Regions from separate parts of the Homo sapiens genome. Here region 1 is linked to region 2. The links come from fine-mapping of genetic effects on gene expression. A gene starts in region 2. The other region holds a variant in brackets. All regions are shown on one strand. Distances are between the middles of the regions. Region 1 overlaps CPNE5 (copine 5). Region 2 holds the start of CDKN1A (cyclin dependent kinase inhibitor 1A).

Region 1 (12,499 bases), 79 kb before region 2:
ATTCAGTAAGTGGCAAAATCAAGACACAAACAACCCAGACTTGGCTGATTCCAAATCACCGAGTTATAGTGTCCCCATAAAGAGCAGTTCTCACAAGCAAGAGAGATAGGAGCACGATGGGAGCCAGTATACGAAGGTTCTGGGCTTGAGACCTGAGGTCCTGAGTTCGAGGTGGCCTTGTGCTTTCAATCAGAACAGTTTCAGGGCCTGCTGAGTATCTTACCTGTTTCAGAATGAAAACTTCAAGAGAATGAGGTCAGGATACCTTCCTTGTTCTAGCCCCAGAGCTGGAGAGCCTCGGACAAGGCACCTGGTCTCTCTGGAGGTGTAACAGTAGCATTTGCCCTCAAGGGACAATGTCTGCATGTGTGTGTGTGTGTGTGAGCATGTATTTGCGTGTGTGCGCATGCGTGTGTGTGTGTGTGTGCATGTATGTGTGTGTGCGCGTGCGTGTGTGTGTATGCGTGTGCATGTGTGTGTTCTCCCTCTTTTTTTTTTTTTTTTGAGACAGGGCCTCACTCTGTTGCCCTGGTTCACTGCAGCCCCAATCTCCCAGGCTCAAGCGATCCTCCCACCTCAGCCTCCCGAGTAGCTGGGACCACAAGCACGCACCACCATGCCCAACTAATTTTTTAAATTTCTTGTAGAGACAGGATCTCGCTATGTTTCCCAGGCTGGTCTTGAGCTCCTGGGCTCAAGCGATCCTCCTGCCTTGGCCTCCCAAAGTGCTGGGATTATAGGCCTGAGCCACCGCGTTCTACTGTGTGCTCTCCCTTTTGCAATTCCCTCCCCACCTTCCAAATCTAGCTCAGGTCCTGCTCCTCTGTGAGGTCTTCCCAGCCACTCTTGTCCCCGTGCTTTCTTGTCTGAACTTCCACAGACATCATGGTTCATGCCAAACCCACTTAATGGCAGATACTTATAACCCAAATAACTGCTTGTGTTCGTATCCTGACTCTACCACTTACTAGCTACGTGACCTTGGCTAAGTCTCTGAACTACTCTGTGCCATGCAAACTGAGAATTAAATAAGTTAATGGAACAATGCCTGACCCAGAGGTCAGCACTGTCTTCTGTCACCATCTGCTGAGCACTGTGTGCCCAGAGGTTCACATTTTACAACCATCCTACCATCCTGGCACTGTCCTCATGCTAGCAGCCACTCAGCCAGCAAAGTTGAAGAGCTGGCCTTGAGTTCCATCACTGAATCCAAATCCCATGCTACCCCCACTCCTTTGCCCTGCATGTCGGTTCTGAGTGGGCAGGTCTTGTGTTCCAACTAGACTTTCCAAGGGCTGGTGAGGTGACAGCCCTGTCTGTTGCCTCCCCTCACTGGCCAGGGCACTGCCGGGCACACAGTAGGTGTGTTATACATTCGCATGCTGAATGAGATTGAACATGGCTATTGTGAAGATGGAGTGTGGATGAATTTATTTGAAAGGGCTCTAATACAGTACATTGCTTTGTTTTCTGCATCTGCAAAGAGAGAAGCTGTCTTTGTCCCCGCTCCCCCGCCCCACCCCAGTCAGAGAGAAGCAGATGCCACCATTCTCTGGCCTCCTTTGAGGAGATTTAGGGAGGTGAAGGGAAGGGGTCAGATCTCTCCGAGCTTGGCTTCTAAAGGTGCTTGACAGGCCCAGAAGGAGCTGTTTCTCTCGGGCTAAGAGCAGAAAGCATTCAATTGACTTGTTTTCTCAGTTGTTGATCCCTGCTTCTTTGTAATCAACAAGAGAAAGTGCCACACTGGGAGGCAGAAGCACTGTCTGCACACATCGGAAGGCCATCAGCTGAAAAAGGAGCACAGCTCTGGCAGTCCCAGGGGGAGGCTGGTTTGGGGCAGGAAGGCCTTGCTAGAATCAGAACTGCCTGAAAAGGGAACAGGCTCCAGCCAGTAAAGACCTGTGCCTCGGGCCCTGGCATTGCCCTAGTGTCAGGCTCCTATGTCCAGCTGTCTGCTGGCCCTTCCTGTAGCTCAGCCTTCCAAAACTGAACACATTAGCTAAACCTCCCACAGCACTCCCGTCCTCCTGGCGAGCCGGCTTCATCTCAAATATTCCCATCATGGGGGCTCAGGGCACCTTAGGGGTCATACTTAACTTCCCCATCCCTCATTCCATATCCAGTCCACGAGCAAACACTGCTCGCCTACCACCCATGTTTTCTGACATCGTTCCCCTCATCTCAGGCCACCACCACCAACTTCATCATCTCCCCCCTTATGGGGCTTTGCCACAGCCTCCTTTCTTCCTTCTGTCCTCTACACAGTAACCAGCGTACTCCACCAAAATAGTGATCTGATCACATCGCTCCCCTGCTTAAAATCTGTGTAGGGCATTCCACCCACCTCCTTAGCCTGGTTCGCACATGGGAGGTGGGAAGAGATACTGAAAGATGCTCCCACCGCAGCTGAGATCCACTGACCTACAGGGTGAAGTTCCAAGCTCTTTCATTTGGGATGCTGTTTCCCCAGCCAGCCACCCGCAATCTGTGTATGCGTGCTTTTTTTTTTTTTTTAAGATGGAGTCTCATTCTCACCCAGGCTGGAGTGCAGTGGCACAATCTCGGCTTACTGCAACCTCCACCTCTACTTCCAGGCTCTAGCTATCCTCCCACCTCAGTCTCCCAAGTAGCTGGGACCACAGGCACACACCACCACCCTGGCGATTTTTTTTTTTTTTTGCATTTTTGGTAGAGATGGGTTTTTGCCATGTTGCCCAGTCTGGCCTCCAACTCCTGAGCTCAGGTGATGCACCCGCCTCGGCCTTGCAAAGTGCTGGGATTTCAGGTGTGAGCCACCACGCCTGGCTGTGCATGTAAATAAAAACACACATCACATGCCTTTGGAGGCCCCTAGGAGCTGGCCCCTGCCCCTTCCCTCTGCCCATTCCCACATTCATCCCCGTCCTGCCACCTGAGGCTCTCTGAACCTCCGTGCTGTCTCAGCCTCCAGGGCTCGATTCATATGGGTGCCTCCACCTGAGACTCCCTCTTGTCTTCTCCTGGGTAGGAGCTATTGGTCCACGGAGCCTCCCTGTGGGTGTTCCTCCTCCAGGAAGTTGTGTCCACCTGCACACCCGCCCCACCCCAGAGCCTGGAGTGGACACTTGTCAGTGCTCCTGGGGTTCCTTCTGGCTATTTTCTGTTTTGTGACACTATTCAACCCCTCAAAGACCTTGAAGTCCTCAGGGTGGGGGTTGTGTTGCACTTACTGCTGCATCCCCAGAGCCAGCACAGCTCCTGGCCCCTAGGAGCCCCTCAGTGCCCCCACCCACCCCACCTAATGTGCGCAGGAGGGCAGATTCCAGACCTGTCCTGTCCCCGCCTGACCACCAAGAAGAAGGGAGGTGACTTAGTGGAGGGGCAGCTCCTCGGCTGGCCCCTAGGTGGCGCTGGCCCCCTGCATGGGATTCACCGTGGCGGGGCTGGAGAGGCTGAGGCTGGGAGCATGAAACCTCAGGGTAAACAGGGATCTGAGAACAGAACATTGCTTTAACATTAAAGCAGTTATATCAGAGAGTGGAAATGTGGAATACAGGCTAATTTAAAGATAACATAGAAAGCTTAGAAGAAACATGCTTGTGGCCAAATCTTTGGTTACTCTCAGGACTCCGGGTTCATTCTCCCCAGCTGGGAGGGCTATGTTGGAGCAAAAGTTTGAGATGCTGTCCATTCCGATAGTTCAACACCCTCAAGGGAGAGATTGGGAAACTGAGGCACAGTGCAGCACTGGGGCTGCCATTTTGCCCTCATCTTAACAGCTTGCCTACTTAAGCTGTTTTCCCATGAATGTGTCCGTGAGCACCTCACCATCTGGGTAACCCCGTGGAGGGGGCGTCCTCCAGTGCTAAAGAGGGTGCTCTGGTCTTCTCTCCCGGGCTCTCTCACCATCTCGCCCAGGCCCTCAGTTTCTACCTGCACAGCTTGCCAGACCTCCCACGTGAACTTCCCACCTGTGCCCCAAATCCAGCGCCTTCCTTCTGTGTCTACCTGGTCACCCCAACCCCTCCCTCTCTCGAACCTCTATAGCCACGCCCAGGGCCCAAGAGGCGTGGTCACTTCTTGACAGCGCTGTTCTCACCATAGCTCAGCACCTGTCCCAATACCCCCAAGTCCTCATGACCTCTCGCATGGACTTATGGTGGCAGTAATAATAGTAGTAGTAATTTTGAAAAATAGCAACTAAGGCTGGGTGCAGTGGCTCACGCCTGTAATCCCAACACTCTGGGAGACTGAGGCAGGAGGATTGCTTGAGCCCAAGAGTTTGAGACCAGCCAGAGTAACATAGCGAGATCCTATCTCTACCAAAAAAAAAAAAATAGCCAGACATGGTGGCAGCTACCTGGAAGGATTGCTTGAGCCCGGGAGGTTGAGGCCACAGTGAGCTATGACCCCACCACTGCACTCCAGCCTGGGCCATAGAGCAAGACCCCGTCTTAGAAAAAAGCAACAGACACGTATAGATAATACTTACTACATTCCAAACTGTTCTAGGCACTTTGCTTGCATTGGCCCATTTAATCCTCATACCTTTCCGGGAGGCAGGTACTTCTTATTCCCATTTTAGAGATGAGGAGACTGAGGCACATTGAGGTTAAGTAACCTGCCTAAGGTCACACAGCTATTATTAGGTGGCAGAACTAGGCAAATATTTCCTGGATGAGCCTCCTCCTCCCCTCACACTCACCTCCACCAGGCCCCAGTGTCCTAGAGCCTGCTCTGATTTTGTCTCCTACCAGCTTGGGGGTCATCAGAGTTCCCTGCAGGCCGCTGGGTGACATTCAGACATTTTTCACTGGGCATTCTAGGCTCTCCTCCAACCAGCCCAGCTTACTCTTCCACCCTGTGGTTCTGCCATCAAACTGGGCCTGGGTTCTATTCATTTCTCCCACAGAACCTCCTCTGACATCCATCTCTCCGTGCCCAGAGCCTTCCTGTGCCTCTAAGTCTGCCTTCAAGACTTCCTGCTCCAGAGAGGCTTTGCTGACACTCTCACCTAGAGTGGTCTTTCCTTCCTCTAACTCCCCTGACACTTCTGTGATCCCCCTTGTTCCATGGCCCTTGTCACTTTTTGCCCTGAGGACATATCTTCTCTCTCCAACATAGGTGATAGATGATTCCAGGGGAGAAGCAATATATGTCTCCACCCACCCCATAAATGTATGTCAAAGAGATCTGTTTGTATCTGTTATCAAGGTGGCACCAATGTATGCACCACTGGCCCGGGGGCAGGAAACCTGGTTTCTAATCCTGTCACTACCCAGATGGCTGTGTGACTTTAGGCAAATCACCTGGTGTCGCTGTGCTTTAGTTTCCTTCTTGCTGGAAGTAGATAGCAATACTCACCCAGACAGAAGAGACCACGGTAAAGATCAGCTGACGGCCTCTGTGGGAACAAAGACAGGGAAAGGGGAAATGAGTTCACCAGAAACCAACAGGCAGCACAGGAGGTATGAAAATTGCCTGGCTTTGTTTGATGGGACATTAGGGAAAAGTTGTGCCTAGACTTCCCTTATTAAAAACAAAACAAAGAAAAACTGGCGAGGGTCAAATGAGAATACAAATACAGTAAGTGCGGAAGTCTCGTGGGGGGCCTCAGGGCTGGGTGGCTCTCGTCACTTTGCCCAGTCTTGGCCTTGGCACTACTGGGATTTGGGACTGCATCACTCCCTGCCGTGGGAGGCTGTCTTGTGTACTGTAGGATGTTTAGCAGCATGCCTGGCCTCTACTCACCCCCTCAGTTGTGGAAACCAAAACCGTCTCCAGATGTTACCAAACGTTCCTGGGGGTAAAATCGCCCCTGGTTGAGACCGCTGAGTTAGCCACCAACAAGCCTTCTCTGAGCACCTACTCTGAGCCTAGCCCCATGATTTATCTGACACAGGTCTGGTTTGGAAGTTAAAGCTTACACTCAAAGAATAGCTAAAGAGGTTCTTGCTGCCAAGTAAGAGGGATGGTGATGGAGAGGGGAGCCTCAGAGGCCCTGGGCAGCCCTTGGGCTGGGTCCCAAAGGAGGAACAGGGGAGATTGGAATTGGCTGAGAGAGGAAGGGGGTGCATTTTTGGTGAGGGGAGCAGCCTCAACCAACACAAGGGACAGGTACAGATAGGGCCGCTTTGCAACATCAAGACTTCTTTGGCTATACTGGGTGGAGGGTGCGTGTGTTCCGGGGAACAGTGGGAGAGAAGGTTAAATAAATATTCCCGGTTGATCGTGGGACCCTGGGTCTGATGGGAGAACCCAGTTGTGTAACCCAGACTCAATACCAGTCTCCCACAAATCCTCCTTAAACCCTTCTCCCCTGGCCCCGTGGTCTTCACACCCCACACTCTAATGGGGCTGGGCTTGGACCACACCCATGGGTGGTTGGAAGCCCTCAAGACTCACCCTGACTGCCTGGAAGCATGCCTTACCTGGTAACTGGTTTTTCCTGCAGGTGGTAAACCCGAAAAAGAAAATGAAGAAAAAGAAATACGTGAATTCTGGCACAGTGAGTAGCCACCCCGGTCTCTGCAGCCGGGTGTAGACATTCTGAGCCCCAAGCTAGGTCTGGTATCAGGGAGGCCCGTGCGTCTGTGTGTGTGCAGGGGCTGAGCGTGGGAATCAGACATCCAAGAGAGATGGGGTGGGGAGGGGTGGGGCAGATGGAGCAACAGCCAGGGGAGAGAGTTGACTTGCAGACCACACAACAGGCGCTGGCTGTATCTAGCATGAGGAATCGCAGAGACATCCACGGGACTTCCTGCAGGAAGGAAGAGGAAGAGAAGTCGTATTTATTGGGCCCCTACCCTGGGAAATTCCCCACGTTGGTGCTTTTCACAGGTTGTTGCCCTGAGAGGCAGATATTATCATCCCCTAGTCATGAAAGAGGAAACCAAGGCTGCAAGCAGGAAAGTGACTCAGCCAAGGTCACACAGCTAGAAAGTGGTAGAGATGGGACTCAACATGACATCTCACTCCAGAGCTGGCAGCTGCTACGGGCGCTGCCCCTGCTTAACC[G/T]TGACCTTCCTGGGATGACACGCCGGCCTAGTGGCTTCTCGGGGCTGGTCTTGAGGACATTCATACGCTTCTTCAGCAAATACTTACTGAGTGCTACTGTGTGCCAGGCACTATTCTAGGCACATCAGATACAGCTGGAAACAAGACAGACCCAAATCCCTGGTGCTTATATTCTAGTGGGAGGAGACAGAGAAAAAAAAAAAACACACACACACACACACACATGCCTGTGTGTGTCAGTTGATTATGAGAGCTATGGAAAAAGTATAAAGGGTAAAGGGACAGGCAATGGAGGAAGTATTGAGGATACTGGGGAAAGGGAATTCCAGCATTCCTGCTGTAGAGAACAGCACATGCAAAGGCCCTGAGGTGGAGCTCACAGTGCATTTCTAGAACAAGCCACTTTCTCTGCAGTGCAAACACACCCAGATTCATCCTCTCTGTGTTCCTTCCTCACTCTAGAGGCCCATGGCTAGTGCAGCCAAGCCTGGTCATTTGAGTCAGGCAGACTGTATCTCCAGACCTAGAAGAGGTTTTCAGGAGCTCTGGGGTTCCTCTGAGAAGCCTCATTTTCTCCGTCTGTAAAGTAGGACTAATAAATCATCCCCACCTTGCCACTGCACAGGGCAGCTGTGACAGACACATGGGAGATGCAGGCTTGTGAACTGTAAAATTACTCTGCTCATTCAAAGGGGACTGAACACCACTTCTTTGATTGTAACTGCTTCACAGACTGGGGCTTGGAGTCATATTTCCTTTGTCCAAGGCTGCGGTGTTTCTTAGTGGAGAGGCTGTCAGCATTTGGGCAGGAAAATTCTTCATCTCACAGGATGTTTAGCACCCCTGGCTGCTGCCCATAGCTACCAGTAGAGCCCCAGTCATTATGAGAACCCCCAAAATTCTCCCACGCCTTCCTAAATTCCCCTAGGGAAGACAGCACCTTCCCCAGCTGGGAATAAAAAGGTTCAAAAACCACTGATCTCATCCAGCCTTCTTACTTTAGAGACGAAGAAACTGTGGCCTAGAGAGGGCATGCGATTTGTCCCAGGTCACACAGTGAGCTGGAGACAGAGCGGGCCTAGGCCCAGGTCTCTTGACTTTCCTTTTACTCCAGCATTTCCCCATCTTCATCGCGAAAAATCACCCGGGATGCAGAAAGCTTGCTGAAATACAGACGCCCAGGCCAGTTCCCTGGGATTCCACTTTAGGAGGCCCAGGAATCTGTGTTTAGTGCTTTTCATCCCTTACTTATGGTGTGCAGAATCCCCTGGGGATCTTGTGAAAATGCCAAGAATCTGCATTTCTGCATTTCTACCTGGCATCGAGGTGATGCTGACGCTCTGGTCTAGGGACACTACCCTTTGAATAGGGGAAAGTCTGCTTTCACCCTGCGAGCCCCTGGGTGAACCCATATGGTCAGGGCAGTTAGGGCATTGCTTCATCCTGGGGGTTGGAATGGGGAGTGGTCAACTGTGTCTGCAGATTAGACTTACGTGAAGAGCTAAAAAAAAAAAAAAAAAAGAAGATCTCTGAAACATTCATGTAGCCCCGGAAACTCGGCTATAATGGGTCTGGGCTGCAGGATGATCTAAGAGCCCCCAGGGCATCTCATGGTCATCAGTCAGGGTTGAAGCCACTGCCGTGGTTCCTAGTAAGTCTGAGCTGCCACACTTGGAAGGAGGCCTGTGGTTCATCCAGGTGCCTAATACCTTAACCACAATAGCTGGGGGTCTTACTGCCAAGTAAGGGTGGTGCTCTCACCTGGCCCTCCCAATGAGCCTGTAAAAACAGCTGAATCTTCATGAATAGGGGGCTCCCAAACTACCAGAGAGGAGTTCGTTCTCTTACACAGGTGAAAGGTCCTCTGCCCTAATCTTGTCTCATATAATTGGCCTAGGATGCCAGGCTTTCATTTGTCTCCTTGATTCTAAATTGTTATGATAATGAGCTGCCAGGTAGCTGCCTGTCTTGGCAAAGCCAAAGCTAACTTTGCCAGGGCATAGGTTAAAAGGCCTCTGCTTGGGGGAGGGGGCCTGGGGTAGTCAGTTACCTCTGGGGAAAAGGATGGGCTACTTATGAGGCAGGATCTTGGGTCTGAGAGGGATGAGATGGGACCAGTAAGATTTAAGATAAGCACAGTCCAAAGAGGCACATTTCAGGACTAATAGCTCTAGGCACATGGAAGCCTGAAGCTGGTCGGCATTGGCAGGTTGTTAGGCCTGTGCCAGGAGGGCCCCCTTGTCCTCCACACCCCACCCTAGGTCCCTGGGGCTGAAGAGCCAGTGCCCACTTAGAGGAAACTAACACCCTTGGCTTGGACCCCGGTTCCACTGACACAGATGGGACCCTTCCGTCAAGGTCAAGAGTGCAGGCTCTGAAGTCAGACACACCCTGGTTTCAGATCCCTTCTCTGCCCTGGCAGTGTCCTTGGGCACATTGCACCACCTCTTTGGGTTTCAGTTTCCTTGGCTATAAAGTGGGGATAATAATAGTACTTCATGGGGTGGTGTGGGCAGTGCATGCAGTCATGCATGCAAAACTGGCACATGCCGAGTGTTCTGTCAATGTCAGCTCTCGAATCATAACCCATCTCCCCTGACCCCAGGCTCCCCACTGACCAAGCTCCCTTTTGTTTTGAAGGTCACCCTGCTTTCCTTTGCTGTGGAGTCAGAGTGCACCTTCCTTGACTACATCAAAGGAGGGTGAGAAGAGATACAGCCAATTTCATGGGCCTTGGGGAGAGGGAAAGGGCCCCACACACCGACAGGACCGGCTCTGGCCCCACCCTGGCCTCTTCAAAGCCCTGGTTGAAGGCTGTGGTGCTGGGCTCTGAGCAAACCCTGGTGTTTGGGCTGAGACAACTCATCCAGAGCCCTGCACATCCCCAGATCCCAAGCAGCTTGGAGGGAACTCCTGAGCCAAGGAGGCTGGCCTGGGTCATGTCAGGTCTCCATGCAGAGACAGGACCTGGAGCTGGTAGGGACTCCGTGACAGAAAGCCAAGGGCTTGGGGATGTAGAAAGAACCCTGCAATAGGAGTCAGGAGGCCCAGGCTCTAGGCCTCTCTTTGCCATTAATTTGCTGGGTTCCTTTGGGTGAGTCATTTTTCCTCTCAGGGTATCAGTTTCCTCCTCTGTACACAAAGAGAACGGAATAGGTAAGTGTTAAGGTTCCTTACAGCTCTGAGCTTCTGACACCTCTGATCTGTCTGGTTGGGGGAGGGGGACAGTGATTAACCTGCTCACTGTTATTAGGGCCCTGTAAGGGCAGCGGGATTGGGGATAAGCCAGGGATTGGTCCTGGGGCCAGCAGGTGGTCAAACATGAGTTTAAGGAGCAGAAAGAACCACCAGGCACAGTGTCTAGGCCCAGACAGATGGGGGAGCCAGGAGGCCCCAGCCAGCAGCTCACGGAAAGAGCCTGGCTCTAAGGGTAGAGCCTGCCCAGCATGCTGCCTGCCAGGACAGGTGCCAGGTCAGGGCGTGGGCAGCCAAGAGCCCGCAGGTGAGTGACTGCACCTGTCTGGAAAGGAGACAGGCAGGAGCAACTGCCAAAGGCTCATCCCAGCCAAGTGGACCCTTGGCTGCCTGGTTCTCCAGGGCAGAGGGAGAAGTCAGGTCCTGGGAAGCCACACTCACTTTCCCATGACAACACTCCCTGCTGCCTTGAGCTTGCAGTCTCAAGGCTGCAAGCTCTCCTCCTACCCACTGAGCACACACCCTGCCTCCAGTCACTCAGGAGCTCCTCTGCTCTTACCTGCCCCTCCTCTGGGCTGACTCCAGACCCCGCCTTTGCACTCTTCCCCCATCAAAATTGCTTCCCTCTCAATCCCATTAATCAGCCACCCCTTACAGTCCATAGCACCTGGTAACTCTCAAACACCCCTCATCCTGTTTATTTTTATTTATGTTTATTTTATTTTATTTTATTTTATTTATTTTTTGAGACAGAGTCTCGCTCTGTCACTCAGGCTGGAGTGCAGTGGCACAATCTCGGCTTACTGCAACCTCCGCCTCCTGGGTTCAAGCAATTCTCCTGCCTCAGCCTATCAAGTAGAGTAGCTGGGGCTACAGGCATGCGCCACCACCCCCAGCTAATTTTTGTATTTTTAGTAGAGACGGGCTTTCACCATTTTGGCCAGGCTGGTCTCGAACTCCTGACCTCAGGTGATTCGCCTGCCTCGGCCTCCCAAAGTGCTGGGATTACAGGCATGAGCCACCACACCCAGTCCATCCTATTTATTTTTTTCATTTGCATAGTACCCCCAACTTACAGAACACAGTGGGCAGGATCAGAACAGTTATCCCCATTTTACAGAGCTTGCCTGAAGCCACACGCCTAGATGGTGGCAGGGTTCCTTCTCCCATAACATGCTGCCTTTCATTCTATAGTAATGAATCAGTCTAGCCTGCCTGACTTGCAGTTAGCGGGTGGGGTGGGATGAAGATGGAGACTGATGAGTTAAAGGGCTGGATGCTGTGAGGTTTCATCGAAAAGGAGCCCTCAGAGGCTGAGCTAAGCTGGTGCCACCCATACTGGGCAGGTTATAGCCCCAGAGCCAGCCCTCTCTTTAAACTCTCTGGAGAGCCTGAGTGAGGGAGCTGGCTCCAGGGACTGAGAGCCTGGCATGCATGCCCAGGCAGGAAGCTGATGTCTAGGGATCCTCTCCTCCCTGGCCTCCCTCACCTGCCCACCTGGACCCAGGAGGAAGGGTATGGGTACTTTGGCCCCACTGTCAGAGGAGGAGCTGGTTGCTCAGCAGCCTGTGTTCTACCCTTAGGCAGGAGACACTAGGCTGCTGCGAGTAATTTTCCCACAAGAGGATCTGCTTTCCAATTGCTTCCTTTCCCAAGGCTTTTCAGAACCCAGGGCAGGGGAGGACTAGTTAGAGCAAGGCCTGCCTTTCCCCTCACCCTGTATTTGGAAGAGCCAGTCCAACAGTGTCCCTCCAGTATAGTCCCACAGGCCAGAATCATCTTCCCAAGAGTGGCCCTGGGAGCGGGACTTTCACCCTCCAAATGTCTCCCTACCTCTAACAAAGACATGCGTTCTACATTCCACACTGAAGCGGGGGTGACAACAAACAGCAGATGAGTATGGTAGGTCAACTGCTGTAACACATAATTCCCTAACCTCAAGCCTTCATACCAATAAAGGTCTGTTTTTCATCTGTGGGATGGCAGGGTTGGGTGGGGAGATGATCCACGCAGTCATTCAGGGACCCAGGTTCTTGCTAGCTTTGCGGCTCCTTCTATCCTACTGCCTGGAATCCTCTGGATGCTCTGCCCCCAGCCAGCAGAAGAGGAGAAAGAGGTGGGGATGACTGTCTGTGGCCAGCAGACCCTGGCTGGGGTCTCCTGCTAACCATGTCCTTGACATTTCCCTGGGGGTGAGTGAGGGTTCCATGAGCAGCAGCTCAGCTGTGATCAGGTGGTTTCTGATAGGGACCTTCTGCTGTGTCTGTGACAGGGATCTTGGGCTGATAGAGCTGTGGTTTCTGATAGG
Region 2 (8,464 bases):
AGCCGGGCATGATGGCAGCACCTGTAGTCCCAGCTACTCGGGAGGCTGAGGCAGGAGAATGGCGTGAACCCGGGAGGCGGAGCTTGCAGTGAGCCGAGATCACGCCACTGCACTCCAGCCTGGGTGACAGAGCGAGACCGCATCTCAAAAAAAAAAAAAAAAAAAAAAAAATCTGGGCATGGGGGCGGGGGGATCACGCCTGTGGTCCCGGTTACTTGGGAGGCTGAAACAGGAGGACTACTTGAGTCCAGGATGGTGCCATTGCACTCCAGCCTGGGTGACAGAGTGCAACTCTGTCGAAAGAAAAGAAAGAAAGAGAGAAAGAGAAAGAAAGAGAGAAAGAGAAAGGAAGAAAGAAAGAAAGAAAGAAAGAAAGAAAGAAAGAAAGAAAGAAAAGAAAGAAAAAGAAAGAAAGAAAGAAAAAGAAAGAAAGAAAGAAAGAAAGAAAGAAAGAAAGAAAGAAAGAAAGAAAGAAAAAAAGAAAGAAAGAAAAGCACCTAGGGAGTTTTTTCAAAATATAGATTGCTGAGGCCCTGCCTCCCGAGACCAACTTAATCCAGATTGAAGATTCAAGCAAGTGTTTGGCACAATTCCTCAGATGGGCACTCTTGGGTTGCCAGCCAAGCGGAGACACACTGGTATGTTTGAAATGGACATTCTGGGTCTCAATACATCATAGGCACAAGGAGGAGGCGCCCGCCTAGGGCTTCATCAAGGTGCTGGATATTCCCTGGCTCTCGGGAGTTCAAGACAGGACTAGGATCTAGGCAGGCACCCTCTCCTCTTCTACCACCCCTCCTTCTCTTATGGCTCTCATAGGCCTCTCCTCCCCCATCAAAATCTGCTCTCATGCTCATAATAACTTTCAGCCCAAAGAAAACTCAGAAACGCAAACCCTTGTTTTAGAAACAATTAAAAATAGCCTCCTTTATTGGCCTTCCTGCCTTAGACTTCAGCCATATTTTAATTTCCAGTAAGAGCTCAGTGAATACTGTTGAACCTAAGGAGTGCTCCTTTGAAGGGGTGGTAATGGCATAGGGGTTGATCTCGGATGAGCCCAGGAGTAGCCGCGGCGGTTCGCGCCGGCCAGCCCCACTCCGCGGGAAAGCCTGTGTGCTATTCCCGCCAGGGCCGGGAGGGGGCGCCGGCCTCCAGGAAATCACGCGCGGAGTGGGAGGTGCGTGGGCAGAGCCTCGGACCGCTGGAGGGAGTAGTGATGAGTCAGTTTCCTGCAAGGCGCTGCTCGCCCGCCAAAACTGCTTCCACTCCGGCTGCGCGTCACCCTGGGGTGGGGAGGGGGAGAATGGGAGGGGACCGGGGGGCCGCGAACACGTCACGCTGAGCCGGCCAGGCTTCCGAAACTCCCGCCGCTGTTGGGAAACCGCGCGCTCTTGTGCCGTCTCTGACACAGACACACACACACACACACACACACACACACACACACACGCCCGCGCAGACACGCACGCGCGCGCGCGCCGGGAGCCGGCCCCTCCACCTTATCTCCACGCCCAAAGCACGGGATGAGTCAGATCCCTGGAAAATAAAAATAGACGGGAGCAACGAAAACAAAACCGCTCGCAAGTCCTCCCAGAAACGCGACGTGGAGGGAGGCAAGGAGAGGGGAAGCTGCCTGGGCGCCCCAAGTTCCTAACCCAGCTCCAAGATGCTTTTCCTCACGAAGAGGGCGCAAGTGTCCCCCAGGGGTTTGGGACGGAGAGGACGCGCTGTGGTCCGCGCCAGGCGGCGGCGCCCCAGGGGGCGACTCGCCCCCCTGCTCCGCTCAGCCCTGTAGCTTTCGGAGAGGGAATCTGGGCTAGGTCGGGAAGCCCTGAGCCCCCGAGGCAGCTGATAGAGGCCCTGAGCAGCGTCGTGCCCCCCAGACCCCCCACCCCTCAAAGACATGAACCCTCCCCGCCTCCCATCCAGGCGTGGGCTCCGCTCCCGCCCCGGAGTCCAGCGCCCCGACCCGAGGACAGGCTGGGCCGCGATTCTCCCGGCCGCGGTGGGAAAGAGGTAGAGGAGACCCTTGCCCTTCCCCGACTGACAGGCTGGTTAGAGCCCGCCCAGAGCAGGGCCGTGACTCCCCGACCCCTACAGCGCGCCGCGGAGCGGGGACCCGACGCGGTGTCCCGGACCTCCAGTGCCCGGCTTCCTTGGGAACAAACTGTTCCAGCCAAATAGGTCACTGTGCCGATGGGAGGACGGAGACCGCGAAGGGGCAGGGGAGAGGGCTTCTGGAGTCCCGCTGTACCCCATCCCGGGCGGGGTTCTGACCTCATACAGTCCGTTCCCTGGGGTCTCCTTGTCACAGTGAGTCACCTCCTCGCTAGTCCTTAGGGGACGGGTCCTGGCACATTCCCAAGGGCCAGGAAACAGCCCGCGCTGACCTCAGCGCTCAGCCAGGTGGTGGACACAGTGGCGTAAAGGACCTGAACCTGGGACCTGGGCCAGGGCGGCGCAGATTGGATCCCAGAGCCACCCGGGACCGATCCTAGACGAACTTACTCCACTCCGCTTTCCTCGCCCTTCCTGGGCCCCTCCAGGGACACGGACTTCATCCCCACGCCGCGAGCAAACTGCGCCTGGGGCCTGGAGCCAACCGCAGCCAAAGGCGAGCTCCCAGAACGGTCCCGTCCACGCCCTCCCTCGCCCCAGCTGGGTTTCCAGGGGCGGGGAGCGTGACCAGGGATTCCTGTACTTGTAATCCCGCTCTCCGCCCCGGGGTCTCCGGCACATCCCGACTCTCGTCACCCGCGCACTTAGAGACACCGTGTGCGCAAGCCGAGCGCGCACCGACCCACGCCCGTCATTCACCTGCCGCAGAAACACCTGTGAACGCAGCACACACCCGCGAACACGCATCCTCGCGGACACGCAGGGACACACGCGGGCACGCTTGGCTCGGCTCTGGGCCGCCGGCCCGGGGTCCCCTGTTGTCTGCCGCCGCTCTCTCACCTCCTCTGAGTGCCTCGGTGCCTCGGCGAATCCGCGCCCAGCTCCGGCTCCACAAGGAACTGACTTCGGCAGCTGCTCACACCTCAGCTGGCGCAGCTCAGCGCGGCCCTGATATACAACCGCCCCGCCCGGGCCCGCCTCAAGGAGGCGGGACCCGCGCTCGGCCCACCGCGCCGCCCGGGACCGCCCTCCCCGGGGCCCAGGCTCCTGGCTGCCCAGCGCCGAGCCAGCTGAGCCTGGCCGAGTTCCAGCAGGCCAGCCGGTCCCGGAACCTCGCGTGCTGCAGGAGGGCACTTCCCTCCTCCCCCAGTCCCTCGCCTGCGTTGGTGCGCTGGACACATTTCCCCACGAAGTGAGCCACAAATCTGGCTTTTTTTACTTGGAGAATGAGTTGGCACTCTCCAGGAGGACACAGCACTGTTAGAATGAGCCCCCTTTCTGGCTCACCGCTGACCCACTCTGGCAGGCAAGGATTTACCCAATGCAGCTGAAAAGATCAGGAGGATGACATTAATACATAAAAATTCATAAATTATAAAAACGATGCACCTCTCTGCAATTTCCAGAAAAGCCCCACAATATCACCTCTATTCCCACTGATCCCTCACTAGGTCACCTCTCCCAGAAGCACCTGGAGCACCTAGACACCCCAACAAAGCATCTTGAGGCCAGAATGATTTTTCAGTCCCGTTTATTTCACAGATGAGGAAATTGAGGTCCACTGAACTTAAGTATACAAAGTTGTTGATTGTCACATGCTTCCGGGAAGGAGGGAATTGGAGAGACTACCAAAAAAGGGCAACCTGATCTCCAGGGAAACAGAAGAATTGGACATTGAACCAATCTCCCTACACCCTACACTCACCTGAACAGAAGAAATCCCTGTGGTTGCAGCAGCTTTGTTGGCCAGGAAGGGGAGGATTTGACGAGTGAGTTGTCTGTCTCCTGAATACTCCCCACATAGCCCGTATACACTGCTGGGGAAACTGGGGCTCAGAGAAGTCTGGTGACCTAACTCAGATCATGCAGCAAAGAAATGACTATAGTTGGAACACAGGACTTTTGCCTCCTGCCCGGGGCTCTCTGCTTGTCATCCTTTATTTCTGTGGCTCCAAAATGACAAAAATGCCAAATAACCCTCATTTGCAGATGGTTTATGGAGATGACATAAATAAAGGACAATTCTGGAAGTGTCTACTGGTTCTTCTGACAGACACAGAAATGAGTGATGTGTCTATCCGCTCCCATCTACCTCACACCCCTGACCTCCCCTGGACTTCACCTTTGCCTCCTTTCTGTGCCTGAAACATTTGCAGTTTTGCTTTTAAAAAATTGCAGAGGATGGATTGTTCATCTGAACAGAAATCCCACTAAAAAACAGAACCCAGGCTTGGAGCAGCTACAATTACTGACATCTCAGGCTGCTCAGAGTCTGGAAATCTCTGCCCAGACATGCCCAGTCTTCTTCCTCTAACGCAGCTGACCTCGGGGAGGACAGGCTTCTTTCTCCTCTGCTGTGGGGATGGGAGCCCAGGTAGGGGTGGGAGGACACAGTAGCAGACCCCCTTGGCCTGCCTCGCCCTGGAGTCAGGCCAGGATTGTGGCTAAACCCCAGAAAGGCCACGGCACAGCCTCAGGACCCCACTCTAAGCCCCACTGCTGTCTGCACCTTCGCTCCTATACATCCAAACCATCCAAAGGGCTGGTTGTCAAATGTCCAGCAGAGGACAGGCACCTTCTCCCACTGCCTTGAAGCCCCTCTGCTTTCAGGCATTTCAAATAGACTAGACATTGTCTGTCTGTTTACTTTGGGGAGAAAATTTTTTTTAATAAAGGCTTGTAATGAATTATTTAAATTTTTGTGGTACTGAGCTTCACAATGAAATAATTCTTTTTGTTGTTGTTTTTGGGAAAGAATTTTTTTTATAACTTCTAGCTCACCACCACCACGACATTCAATATTTCTTAAGTACCTACTAAGTGTCTAGTACTATTCAGTGCTTTAAAAAAAAAAGTTTGCAACCATGCACTTGAATGTGTACCCAGACACACTCTAAGGGAGGACTTCTGCCCTGAAAAAGGCAAGGGAGCAGGCTGTTAAAAGTCACACACAGAATCTGACTCCCAGCACACACTCACACAAGCACACATGCATCAGATCCCAGCCCTGTCGCAAGGATCTGCTGGCAGATCACATACCCTGTTCAGAGTAACAGGCTAAGGTTTACCTGGGGTCTTTAGAGGTCTCCTGTCTCCTACCATCCCCTTCCTCACCTGAAAACAGGCAGCCCAAGGACAAAATAGCCACCAGCCTCTTCTATGCCAGAGCTCAACATGTTGGGACATGTTCCTGACGGCCAGAAAGCCAATCAGAGCCACAGCCTGCTGCCCAAGCATGTTCCTGGGAAGCAGGCAGCATAGGGATGGAGGGAGGCTCAGCCTGGGGGACAAGAGTGCCCAGTCCAGCCCCCTCCCCAGAGTGCGGTGGAGCAGCATGGGGTAGGGGAATGGTGAAAGGTGGAAAGCCCAAGCCTGAAGAAGGAGGATGTGAGGAAGGCTCAGTGGTGGCTGCAGAAGCTGCCTAGGAAGGGAGAGGAAGTGCTGGGAACAATGTCACCATTTCTCAGAAAGAGACTGGGGAGTCCCAAATAGGGGCAGTCAGCTTTCAGAGGAATTCACCTTCACACAGGCTCCCAAGAAGTGAGACCCCAGAGAAGAGGCGGAACAAAGATAGAACATTATTGAGCAGAGGCAGCCCTGGCTTTTTGTTTTCATTTTGTTTTTTTGTTTTGTTTTGTTTTTTGAGACAAAGTCAGCAGTGGCACAATCTCAGCTCACTGCAGTCTCCGCCTCCCAGGTTCAAGCAATTCTGCCTCAGCCTCCCGAGTAGCTGGGATTACAGGCATGCACCACCATGCCCAGCTAATATTTGTATTTTTTTTTTTGCACAAAAAGTTGGATTTATTGTTTCTGACAAGTGGTTAGTAATTTTCAGTTTGCTCATGTTCCTAGCATCACAAATCTGAAGTACAATTTTGCTTCTCAATTAAAAATATATACTGGCCGGGCGTGGTGGCTTACGCCTGTAATCCCAGCACTTTGGGAGGCCGAGGCGGGCAGATCACAGGGTCAGGAGTTTTGAGACCAGCCTGGCCAATATGGTGAAACCCCGTCTCCATTAAAAATACAAAAATCAGCCGGGCATGGTGGTGGGCACCTGTAGTCCCAGGTATTCAGGTGGCTGAGGTGGGAGAATCGCTTGAACCTAGGAGGCGGAGGTTGCAGTGAGCTGAGATCATGCCACCTGCACTCCAGCCTGGGTGACAGAGTGAGACTCCGTCTCAAAAAAAAAATATATAAATCTTTGTGTAAAATGAAAAAAAAATCAAGGCATAAAAATTTCATTGTGTTCTACATTTTTAAATATAAATTGCCTCCTTTAAAATATTTTCATCCATTCATTCAAAAACCTTTTAACTTCAACTGTCCAATTTAAGATAGAGTGAAGACATTTTTGAGTATCTGAACTAAGCATTGTCTTGACTGAAACGAAGTAAGAACTCTATGAGAGTCCTTGTGGGCCTCCCGGTCATGCCTTTCCATAGATAGGGAACCTCATCTTTGTTGGTCATCACACCTGCTATGTCTAAATGTGCCCACTTAGGATGAGTCACGAATTCTTTCAGGAATGCCGCAGATGTACATGCTCCCGCAGATCTATATTTTCCAATGTTGTTAACATCAGCCAGCTGGCAATCTACAACCTGTCTTGTACAATGTTTGAAGAGAGGCATCCTCCAGACACGGTCCCCTGTTTCAATGCTGGCCTCGAAGAGCTTGTTCCAGAGCCAGGATGAATTGGTAAAGACCCCAGTGGCACCTGACCCCAAAGCTACATCTATGACACCTGTTAAGGTGGTGGCATTGAGGATGACCTTCGGGTTAAATGTGTGCACGTAACAGAGCGCATCAGCCAGTATGAGCCTCCCCTCAGCATCAGTGTTACCAACCTGGATGGTCTTCCTGTTCCTGGCTCTAACAACATCCCCCAGCTTGTTGGCCTTGCCGCTGGGCATGTTTTCACAGAGGGGCCAGACCTATAATATTAATGGGCAAACTGAGATTTGCAGCAGACACAATGGCTGAGCATATAGTTGTAGCTCCTCCCATGTCGGCCCTCATGAGGTCCATATTTGCAGAAGCCTTGATGGAGATACCACCACTGTCAAAGGTAATTCCTTTCCCAACAAACAAGGGGTGGTTTGTCTGCATTGGGGCTGCCTATGTAGTGAATTTCCAAGAAGACTGAGGGCTCGTCAGATCCTTTGGCCACACTGAGGAATGATCCCATTGCCTGTTCCTCAATCCAAGACCTGGGTCTGATATGAAACTCGGTTTACTACTAGCGCTTTTGAGATTCTTCTCAATAATTTCGGCAAATCTGGTTGGCATCATCTCGCTGGCTGGCGTCTCCATCATGCCAAGTTCTGCCCAGAAGCAAACAGGACTCCTTTCTGCCAGGCCTCCTGATCCCCAGTTCCATAGAGCTTCACCGACATAGCCATCTTCTTTTTTTGCTTTAGGTCATCGTATTCATAGAGACCAAGCACCGCGCCCTCCTCAGCAGCCTGAGCATCTCTACAGGGATCCACCTCCACGGAAGAGAGCTCCAGGTCTTGAATCTGCCTGCATCCTGCTGCAACAGCAGCTCTGATGTTTTCTTTGCCTTCCTGCCAGTTTTCCTGTTCGTCGATTCTGGCTGCCTTTTTGCCGAGGCCAACTAGCACCACGCTGGGGAAGTCCTGATGCAGACCATAAAAGTTTCGAGTCTTGCCTGCCTTCAGAGGTGGTCCAGATATGTTCAAAGTCTCTCTCAGCTTTCCAGCTATCAATTTATCAAGATTCTCTCCTGCACTTGTGAACTGTGGCACATCATCTTCTTTTTCTTTGGAATAGATTCCTAAAACAAGGCCCTTCGTCATGTCTGCAGCGGAGAGACCCCGGCTCCCGAAACATCTCACGGCCAGACGTCAGACGATGACTCGCCCCACCCAATGTTTGTATTTTAGTAGAGAGAGGGTTTCTCTATGTTGGTCAGGCTGGTCTCAAACCTCGACCTCAGTTGATCTGTCTGCCTCGGTCTCCCAAAGTGCTGAGATTACAGGCGTGAGCCACTGCGCCCAGCCTATTTTTATTTTTTATATATTTTTTGAGATGGAATCTTGCTCTGTTGCCCAAGCTGGAGTGCAGTGGCGTGATCTCAGCTCACTGCAACCTCCACTTTCTAGGTTCAAGCGATTTTCCTGCCTCAGCCTCCCGAGTAGCTGGGATTACAGGCATGTACAACCATGACTGGCTAATTTTTGAATTTTTAGCAGAGACGGGGGTTTCGTCATGTTTCATCATGTTAGCCAAGCTGGTCTTGAACTCCTGACCTTAAATTATCTGGCTGCCTCAGCCTCCCAAAGTGCTGAGATTACAGGTGTGAGCCACCATGCCAGGCCTA

Evidence for each region.
Region 1: its variant is fine-mapped to the expression of CDKN1A in whole blood (TOPMed, PIP 0.96).

The regions. Positions count from the first base shown.
Region 1 is chr6:36,750,233-36,762,731 of GRCh38, reverse strand. It overlaps CPNE5 (copine 5), which reads left to right. Exons shown (of 21, transcript NM_020939.2): 13 at 6,434-6,487; 14 at 9,637-9,698. Among named protein-coding and RNA genes, the nearest start is that of RAB44, 59 kb to the right of the region's middle. RefSeq lists enhancers at 2,492-3,460, 3,296-3,485, 6,171-7,370. The variant G/T (reference allele first, on the strand shown) is at 6,997.
Region 2 is chr6:36,673,293-36,681,756 of GRCh38, reverse strand. It overlaps CDKN1A (cyclin dependent kinase inhibitor 1A), which reads right to left and starts at 3,043. Exons shown (of 3, transcript NM_000389.5): 1 at 2,959-3,043. PANDAR (promoter of CDKN1A antisense DNA damage activated RNA) reads left to right here and starts at 6,631. Exons shown (of 1, transcript NR_109836.1): 1 at 6,631-8,136. It overlaps DINOL (damage induced long noncoding RNA), which reads left to right and starts at 3,198. Exons shown (of 1, transcript NR_144384.1): 1 at 3,198-4,148. It also overlaps the pseudogene LAP3P2. RefSeq lists silencers at 1,041-1,430, 3,001-3,230 and enhancers at 2,162-2,749, 2,761-2,950, 4,143-5,342, 5,322-5,391, 5,442-5,531.